2 linked regions of the Homo sapiens genome follow. The protein of the gene in region 2 interacts with the protein of the main gene of each other region in a pairwise test. Each region holds a gene or a part of one and is shown on either strand. Other genes may lie near its edges.

Region 1 (5,177 bases), on a different chromosome or scaffold from region 2:
TGGGAGGCTGAGGCAGGCGGATCACGAAGTCAAGAGTTGGAGACCAGACTGGCCAACATGGTGAAACCCCGTCTCTACTAAAAGTACAGAAATTAGCCAGGTGTCTTGGCGCACGCCTTTAGTCCCAGCTACTTGGGAGGTCGAGGCAGGAGAATTGCTTGAACCCAGGAGGCAGAGGTTGCAGTGAGCTGAGATCGCGCCACTGTACTTCAGCCTGGGTGTCAGAGCAATACTCCGTTTTGGAAAACAAACAAACAAACAAACAAACAAAAAACAGATGGAGCAACTGAGAGAGGTCTTGTGACTTGCCCAAAGTCACACACCTCATCACTAATCACACCTAATCATTGAGATTTGGACACACATGGTTCAGTTCCAGAGTCCATGCTCCAAACCATGACGACACAGTGAGAGAACATTCAAGGGGAGCCCAGACCCAGCTTCATAACCAGGCCTGTGAGCAGGAGAAAGTGGAAGGGATCGTAAGTGCCCAGGGGAGGCAAAGATGGACTCTGCCTGAGGATCTCAGAGATTTCCTGGAGGAGGGAGAATTGAGGTTGGGTGTTGAAGGATGAGTGGGAGTTCACCAGGAAAAGAAGGATATGGAGAAAGACATTCACTCATTCAATGAACATCTCCTGAGGACTTCTGCAAGCCCTGTTCCGCCTGGAACGGGGTGATGCTGGGACACAGAGATGAGTCAGACCTGGGCCCAGCCCTCCAGAAGCTGTCCACCTGGTGAGAAGGAATGATGAGGAGAGAGGCAGGGAGGATGGGGTGATGGAAGGGACAATGGGGTGGGGGGCAGGGAGATGGATGAAAAAAATATATAGCAAATGTTCTCAGGATTTGGCAAAGATCAGGATGTATTAAGAGAGAGCACAGGGCACTTGCTACCTGGAAGGTTGGGCACCTGGGTCCTTGGGTGGTGGAGCCGTGGGGAAGGGGGCAGGTTATGACAAGAGTGGGTTAATCCAGATGGAACCAGATTTCTCAACATTCTAGGAGAGGGCCTTGTCCTTGTGGGAAGAGGCCCAAATCCCCAGGGCAGGGAAGGTTCTGCAAGGTGTGTAAACCTGTGCAGCTGCCTGTGGTCTCTGCCTCACTCCACCTGGATTTCCCTCAATCTTTCCCGTGTTCTGTCTCCTCCTCCCACTCCTCCTCTCATCTTGGGTCCTTCTGTGCCTGTACCTCCCTCTCTTTGTATCTTTTGCTCTTGTGTCTGAGTCCTGACTCTGTCTTCCACCCCTCGCCTCCTTTCTGGGTGGTCCCCCTGCACATCCCTCCAGCCTGCCGTGGGAGGTTGGTCTCTGCACACCACTGCTTTATCCAAAATAAACCTGCTGCACCCCAGGACCTTAGGCTTCAAGGATCTCCCTCCTTTTCCAGGACACAAAAGATTCTGTATCTTGTAGCCTAAGGTGATGAGGAATGAGGTCTCCCACTCTGAAGACCCCAGAGGAGGTGCCCACAACCTCTCCACACCCCCAGCACTCCTCCTCCATTCAGTCAAGCTCTGGCCCAGCAAGCCGCCAGTTCATCCCAAAAGGGGGGTCCCCCTGCACTTACCTCCTCTCCCAAGGCCCCTGTCACAGCCCCAGGGCTTCCCCCTCCCCCAGGTACATTTCCCAACCCCGATTAATCACAGGGGCGGCCCCATGGAGGAGGAAGGAGATGGCATGGCTTACCATAAAGAAGCACTGGACGCCGGGTGCACGTTCCAGGATCCAGGTGCCCAGGGGTCATGAAGCTGGGACTCCTCTGTGCTCTGCTCTCTCTGCTGGCAGGTGAGGCTCCCAGGCTGGCTGCCCCTTCACGGCTGTACTAAGGTCACCTTGCTCTTCCCTCCCATCCCAGGCTTCTGCCTCCTGCCCTCTAGGCTTCTCAGCATCCTCTCCCTGCCCTCCCAGCCTGCTCTTCGCTGACCCCTTTGTCCCTCATCCCCACCCCAGGGCATGGCTGGGCAGACACCCGTGCCATCGGGGCCGAGGAATGTCGCCCCAACTCCCAGCCTTGGCAGGCCGGCCTCTTCCACCTTACTCGGCTCTTCTGTGGGGCGACCCTCATCAGTGACCGCTGGCTGCTCACAGCTGCCCACTGCCGCAAGCCGTGAGTGACCCAGGCTGGCCATGCTGGGGAGGGACAGAGGCTGGGGGTCAGGAGAGGGTGAGGGGTGCTTTAGGCCAGAAGTGCGGAGCCTCCACTTCTGATACCACAAGTTCAACTCTTAGAAGTAGGAAGGGTAGCCTCCCAAATCCTAAAATTCTAGAGACCAGCAATATCTCATTTGAGAAGTCTAAGATTCGAAACTTAGGCTCTTCGAATCCGAGACTGACCCAGAGAAATCCAGAATCGTAGAATCCTAAAATCTTGAATTTATGAAATTCTGCAATAGCCTCAGCAAATTTTAGAATCATAGATTCGCAGACTATTAGAATCTTAGCAGTCTGGGTCAGCACTGCCCAGAGGAATTATGATGCCAGCCACATGTGTAAGTTTAAATTTCTGGTGGACACATTTAAAAAATAAGGAATGAGTAAAATTAATTCTAATAGATTTAACTTGACATACCCAAAAACTTATTTTGACATGTAATCAATTTTTAAATACGTATGAACGATACAGTTTACTTTTGTTTTGGTACTAAGCCTTTGAAATCTGTTCTGTATTTTACACACATAGCCTGTTACAAAATGGACTAGCCACATTTCAAGTGTTCAATAGCCATAATGGCTAGTGTGATCCTAGAATCTTAAATTCAGAGCTTTCTAGATTCATTGAATATTGAAACTCACAGTACTAGAATCTTTGATTCACAGTATCCTAGAATATTGAGATTCAGATAATTCTGTAGTCTTAAACTATTTGAATCCCAGACTCTTAAATTTCTAAGGTTATAGATTTATAGAATGATGACATTCTAGTCTTTCTTTTTTTTTTTTTTTTTTTTTTTTGAGACAGAGTCTCCCTCTATCTCCCAGGCTGGAGTGCAGTGGCACAATCTCAGCTCACTGCAACCTCTGCCTCTCGGGTTCAAGCAATTCTCCTGCCTCAGCCTCCTGAGTAGCTGGGATTACAGGTATGCACCACCATGCCAGGCTATTTTTTTTTTTTTTTTTTTTTTAGTAGAGACGGGGGTTTCACCATATTGGCCAGGCTGGTCTTGAACTCCTGACCTTGTGATCTGCCCGCCTCGGCCTCCCAAAGTGCTGGGATTACAGGCGTGAGCCACCGCGCCCAGCCAAAATTCTAGTCTTTTTGTCCTAGAACATTAAAATTCTATGTTCAAATCTTAGATTTAATTCAGATAATGTTAGAATCCTGGAGTTTTTTTGATCCAGGGGAATCTGGAATGTTAGAATCTTGGATTCATAAAACTCTAAACCTTGAGCCTCTAGATTCTAGAATCATGGATAATAGTGTGTCGGAATCTGAGAATTCTAGAATCTTAGGTTCTGGGCATTCTAATAGTATCCTGGAATCCACCTGATGCAGGAATCCTCTCTCCATTGCCTCTGAAAAGTGACCATCCATACTGTTCCAATTTTCTTCCCTCCATGAGTAAAGCACTGATTGTGGTAAGAGATGCTGTGTGGGAATTTCCCATCATGCATTGCTCCATGATGGAACCTCCTTTAACTTAAGCCTATACATCAGACTGGGAGAACGATGTTCAGATTTCAGCCGAAAGTGAAGCAGGAGAAATGCAGAGATATGAAGGTGGAAGAGAGTGAGAGGCAGGGGAAGGGTAGGGGGATGAAGGGATGTAGGGGTGAGGACTACTTTTCCAGATCCAGAGCCAAGACAGCAAGAATGACAGAGAGAGACAGACACAGATGTTTCTGGTTCCCCAACCCTGAATTCGCAGTCATTAGCCTGCTGCCTAATGTCAGAGGTCAGAGGCTGGGGAATGGACTTGTCATCCCCGAAAGGATCCCAGCTGTCTAGGGCATGGACCAGAAATGAAACAAGTGCGCTGAGACTGTGGTGAGGGCTTAAGGTTAGACACCAGGAAGACATGCATTGAAGGGTGAAGGATATGATAGACAGGAAAAGCTGAGGCCAGAGATGACCCCCAATTTGGGGATTTTCCATATCCCATCCCCTTTCATACACACGCACACGTATACACACACACCACTTAGACATACAGAGCCGCTCCCACAGAAGCCACCAGACCTGTGGGGGCAGGGGTGGGGCGGTTGTTATGTGGTAGGTGGGGTCCCCCGTGCCCACACCGTTCCTAGGGACCCAAGTCACCACCAAGGCTCCAGGTGAGTAGGGAGGAAGGTGGCTCACTCAGCCTGGGACTAGGAGCGGGGGCTTTGTGGGGAGAGCTACAAAGATGGAGACACACAAAACATCAGAGTGGGGACCAGGGACCCAGAGGAGGTGTGTGCCTCGCTTAAAATCACAGTACCCTGGGCCAGACATAGATGATGAGGGTGCAGAGAGGGTGTGTGGCTTGCAGAGGGTCACACAGCACCCTGATGGACAGGAAAAGAGGGCTGGGGCTGAAAGGACTTTTACCTTTCCCCCAGCTTGACCTCTGAGGCCTGTCCCAGCAGGTATCTGTGGGTCCGCCTTGGAGAGCACCACCTCTGGAAATGGGAGGGTCCGGAGCAGCTGTTCCGGGTTACGGACTTCTTCCCCCACCCTGGCTTCAACAAGGACCTCAGCGCCAATGACCACAATGATGACATCATGCTGATCCGCCTGCCCAGGCAGGCACGTCTGAGTCCTGCTGTGCAGCCCCTCAACCTCAGCCAGACCTGTGTCTCCCCAGGCATGCAGTGTCTCATCTCAGGCTGGGGGGCCGTGTCCAGCCCCAAGGGTATGACCTGGCCCAGAACTCTCTCTGAAACTTGCTCCCTCACCCCTCTGTCTCTGCCTTTTCATCTCTGTCTTCTCCTTTTCTCTCTCCTCTCTCTCTCTGTCAGTCTATCTATCTGCCAATCGATATATTTAACCAAATATAAGATGCTAGCATTTTTAAGATGTGCCATTATTTCATGAACTGCGAAGAAGTGGAAGAAGGAGGAGGAGGAGAAGAAAAAAAGGAGGAGGAGGAAAGATCCCATTAGATCCCATTGATTATATAACACCATTTTCTGGAAGACACATTCTAATTTCAGAGTGTTTGTTTGTTTGTTTGTTTGTTTGTTTTTGAGACAGGG
Region 2 (4,600 bases):
AAATTAAAACTGATTTCCTGCTCTTTCGGGTCTGTTTTTTTCCCTTCCGCTTCCTGGCCCCCCTAGAGTACCCCCTCCCCTCCATGGCTGGACGGGATTGCCTCGTCATTTCCAATTCCTTCTCGTATTGATCTTCCTGTAGAAATCAGTTTTGTAATTAGCTGCAAATTAGGCCTTCTACTGGGGGTGAAGCTGCCCCCTGATTTATCACCAGAGTAATTCGCTGTGATCGGAGAGAAATTAAAATGAACTCAATTAGGCTTCGGATTTGCTTTATGGGCCCTGCTCCGAGTTTCAGGGGGAAAAATGACTGTGCTGGTGTTTAATAGTCTAATGAAAGTAAATAAAGGTTATTCATTGTAATACAGGCGGGGACTCAGGGAGGGTGCACTGAGCCGCCCGCCTCGGCCAGCTCCTCCTTTGTTGGTTTATGGCTCAGGGCACCTTAAAAAGACTTTTGATTTTTGTTTTATGAAGACAAACAGCTTATGGGATAAAAGGACGGGCGGGGAGAAAGGCGAGTGGCTGGGAGCTGTTGGAGTCTTAAGAGTGGAACTACAGCGTTCAACGCTGTGGGGCTGCACTGACGTGCATGTGTGGGTGCGTGTGTGCATGCATGCAAGCACAGCAATGCTGTCTTGTGCTGTGACTGTGGGCCTGGCCTGGGCTGCATGTGTAGCAGGGATGGGAGTGTGCCCCTGTGTGGGAGCGGGTGTGCTGGGGGCTCCACCCAGCGTATGTGGGTGGAGGCATATGCTAGGGGTATGCTGAGCTGGTGATCTGGGGGCAGCACACACCCACTGGCTCCATGCGGCTGCCGGGGCTAGCTGTGAGTACCGTGGGCTGTGGGTGAGGGAGCAGGTGGGCGGTGGTGTGTGAGCACAGTACCGTGGGCTGTGGTCGGGGGAGCAGGTGGACAGTGGTGTGTGAGCACAGTACCGTGGGCTGTGGGTGAGGGAACAGGTGGGCGGTGGTGTGTGAGCACAGTACCGTGGGCTGTGGGTGAGGGAGCAGGTGGGCGGTGGTGTGTGAGCACAGTACCGTGGGCTGTGGGTGGGGGAGCAGGTGGACAGTGGTGTGTGAGCACAGTACCATGGGCTGTGGGTGAGGGGAGCAGGTGGATGGTGGAGTGTGAGCACATGCACACCAGCACATAGAAAAGTTCGGAGATGGTTTCTGCGTTGTGCGTTTTGCTGGTGTGTTACATGCTGTGCCCCATGCTATGTGTCCTGGGCTGCTCAGTGTCTGCAGAAAGTGTTGGGTGTAAGTGGGAAGCTGCCAGCCTACCTAGGGTTCCATTGAATTGCTGGCTTGGGGAGCAGGAGGCAGGCACAGGCAGGCTCTCCTGACACTGGGCAAGGAGAGCTCCCCAGTCTAGCGTAGACTTTCTGTAGGACCCTGAGGGGGTGTGGGCAAGGGACACAGCAAGAGGATGTTCCTGAGTACTCCATGCAAGAACCACAGAAAAGCGGAGCTAGAAGGGACTTGACAAACCCTACATCCAAGCCCTTCATTCTATAGATGGGGAAACCGAGGCTCTGAACAGAGATGATTTACCCAAGGCCATACTCTTGCACCCAGAACTCATTTCTAATTACCATATACAGACCATAATGATTTGTCTTAACGATACCATACTGTCTCATGTGAGCCTGTTCACACTGCACACACACAGAACACACGTGTGTAACACATACAATGCTGGCTATGCATGTGGTGTTTAGTGAACAAGTTTTTGAGAGGCCTTGCTCTGCCGGCTCCTTTCTACTTCTGCAAGCAGAAAGCTCCCTCCTCACCTGTTCTGATTTGATGTGCTCTGATGCCTGGAAGACGTCAGGGTAGGAAGGACGCTCAAAGACCCGATCCAAAGCTTCCAGCTGCTGCTGGGTGAAGGTGTCAGCTCGCAAGTGCTTCCGCAAACTGTCCACACCACTCTGGGAATCTCCATTGGGGACTGAGCCCTCAGACACATCTGGAGAACACATGGACACTCGGGGCGTTAGCGCCAGGCCAGCAGAGGCACAGGAACAGTGCAGGGCAAAGAGGTGGGCATCTGGTTCCGGGCCCAGGAGCTCTGCACCCCTATGGGACCCCTTACTCTCAGCCCCTGGGCCAGTGGGGCTGACACCAGAGGGTGGCCCTGCCTCAGAGATCTGGCTGAGGAAGCCCAAGGAAGAGAAGGACCTGAGGACCTGGTAAGAGATGGAGCGGTCACACTGTGGGGTCAGGAAGGATTAGGCAGAGGTGGAGCCAGGGGGCTCCCAGGAGCCAGCTCCCTGGGGCATGTCTCCCTGAACCACCCCCTGCCCCCAAGCCAGGGCCAGCCTGGGGAAGAAAGAAGCTGGGTGTCTCAGACTGGCATTACTGAGCCTGTGGAGAATTGAACTCGGCTCCGAGATGAATTTCAGTTCCACTAATTCCAAGGGTTGAAAACCATCAAATTTCCGAGGCCGAGTGTAACCTGGAGACTGGGTGAAGTAATCAACTTCGCCCTGAGGGAGGAGGGGCTCTGAGGCAGAGCTGAGGCACTCTGCTTGGGTTGGGCCAGGACTGAGGCCAGAGGGAAACCAAGCGGGAGGAAAGAGGTGTCGCTAGAGCAGCAAAGCTCCCGCTTGGGCAGAGCCCACAGAAGGGCCCCTGTGGATGCCTCTATGCCCTGGCCGCCTTCTCGGCCTCTGTCTCCAACCTAGACCCAGGCTCAAGCCTCCTACAGGAGCCAGTTTCTTGGTCACCTGGTTCCTCCTGCAAGTCTCCAGAGGGAGCAGAGTCTTATCACACCGGTGCCTGCTCCCCTGAGTCTACAGGCCAATCCTGTCTCCATGTCCCCTTTCCTCAGGCGTTCTCAGCCCTCCCCTATCCTTGCCTCCCAGCGTCGGTTCCTTGGAGTTTTCAAGGTGTACAGTAGGCAATGTGCCTGCTCTGTGGCCTCTCTCTGAACCCACACCTTGCAGCCCCCCAAAGTGGGGTTTCCCCCCCAAACCCCATACCAGCTTGGTCACTCCAGGCTTCCCTCAGCCCAAGACCAGCTGAGGAGCCTTGGGCCTGGGGCCAGCCCATGCCGGAGGCCCCAGGGTGTTCCTCTGGGAATGTTATATATATCAGTTTATAGGTGATTATACGATATGATATAATCAATATTGCATTATATACAGTAACACCATACAGTATCATTCAGGAGACCATAGAAAATATTACATATTGATTAACTCAACCTGCAGCCATCCTCCCTTGCTGGCCTCCCAGACCGAGCATGGGGTTTGCTTTCCTAATGTGACCTCCCATCTTCCCTCCATATCTATTCTGGAGGGGGTGGGAAAGCAAAGAAAGTGTGTGTGTGTGTGTGTGTGTGTGTGTGTGTGTGTGTGTGTGTGTGTGTGTATGTGAGAGAGAGAGAGAGAGAGAAGGAGAGAGAGAGAGAGAGAGAAGGAGAGAGAGAAAGAGAGGGAGAGAGAGACAGAGATCAAGACCAGGACCACATCTGAAGAAGACAGACAGAAGCAGCTTCAATGGTATTTGTTCCCATGAACACAAAACTTGGTGGTTGTGGTTTCTTCTGCATAAGGCTCTGGAATCATTTCAGTCTTACGGGATGTATGCATCAACATATGAGTTGAAAGTTGAAGTGTGGTAAATTTATTTTTCCCTTTTGTGTGAGTATTGCGTGTCTACGCGCTTGTACATATATAAACGTCCAGATAAACAAGGGTCTGCGTGTGTGGAAATAGAATGAGAAGCTTCCTGAAAGAATGTGTGTGTCTGTGTGTGATTGCATGAGGACTGTGAGGCCACATGCCCCGTTTCTCCTGTGCCTACTTCTTTTTTCAGGATGTGCCATCATCCTCATTTCACTCCCTGTAGCTATTTGCGTGTCCTATTGTGTTTGATTCTCCCTTCCTGGAGCCCTCCTACCTTTTGGGGAAGCCGGACTCTCAGGGCTGAGGAAAGCATCAAATATCTTCATATATGGTTATTGTAGGGGCAGAGAGGGTGTATTTGTGAGCGTGTGTTCACACATTATGTGTGTGCATGTGTGGCAGGACTCTCCTCATGCCTCTGTGTAGATTTGTGTATATGCCTGTCTGTGTGTGGCTTGGCTCACTGTGTCTGTGTGTGTGTGTGTGTGTGTGTGTAGGGGCTGAACTGAAGCTTTGTCCTCAGGTCACTGGCTGGAGGAGTCTCTTTGCCTTCATTTATTCAGGGGCCCTTCAGATCTTGACAAATCTGTCACTCTAAATTTGCGAGAGATTATGGTGCTCTCTCCCCGGCCCGCAGAGAGGTGATATATGATATCTGCTGCCCCTATTGATTGCCTGATCTGGTGGCAGAGGCCGGCGAAATGAACTTGAAATGAACATCATGCCTCAACTCATTGTGCGTATAATACACTACTTAATCCCACATTTTTCAGCCGCTATGGAATTCAATTGATCAATCATGTTCCACTGATAGTACTGTTTTAGGGGTTATTGCTGCTCCCTCCACTCACTGACCTTTTTATTTATTTATTTATTTTTTTGTATACTCAGGCCCTGGTGGTAAGACAGGTTACAGAGGCAGCAAAGGAGGGGAAGGGGGAGGGAAAGGAGGCAAAGGCTAAGGA

Evidence for each region. Proteins that work in one complex are often made in the same cells at the same time.
Region 1: the proteins of PAX2 (region 2) and KLK9 interact in a two-hybrid assay, tested with the Homo sapiens proteins (one large-scale study listed by BioGRID and IntAct).

Annotation. Positions count from the first base shown.
Region 1 is NC_000019.10:51,006,115-51,011,291, reverse strand, and holds the start of KLK9 (kallikrein-9 precursor), read left to right. Parts: upstream 1-1,699; 5' UTR 1,700-1,744; coding exon 1,745-1,787; intron 1,788-1,952; coding exon 1,953-2,109; intron 2,110-4,568; coding exon 4,569-4,834; intron 4,835-5,177.
Region 2 is NC_000010.11:100,803,802-100,808,401, reverse strand, and holds part of PAX2 (paired box protein Pax-2), read right to left. Parts: intron 1,973-4,600; coding exon 1,797-1,972; intron 1-1,796. UniProt on the Homo sapiens protein: Transcription factor that may have a role in kidney cell differentiation. Has a critical role in the development of the urogenital tract, the eyes, and the CNS.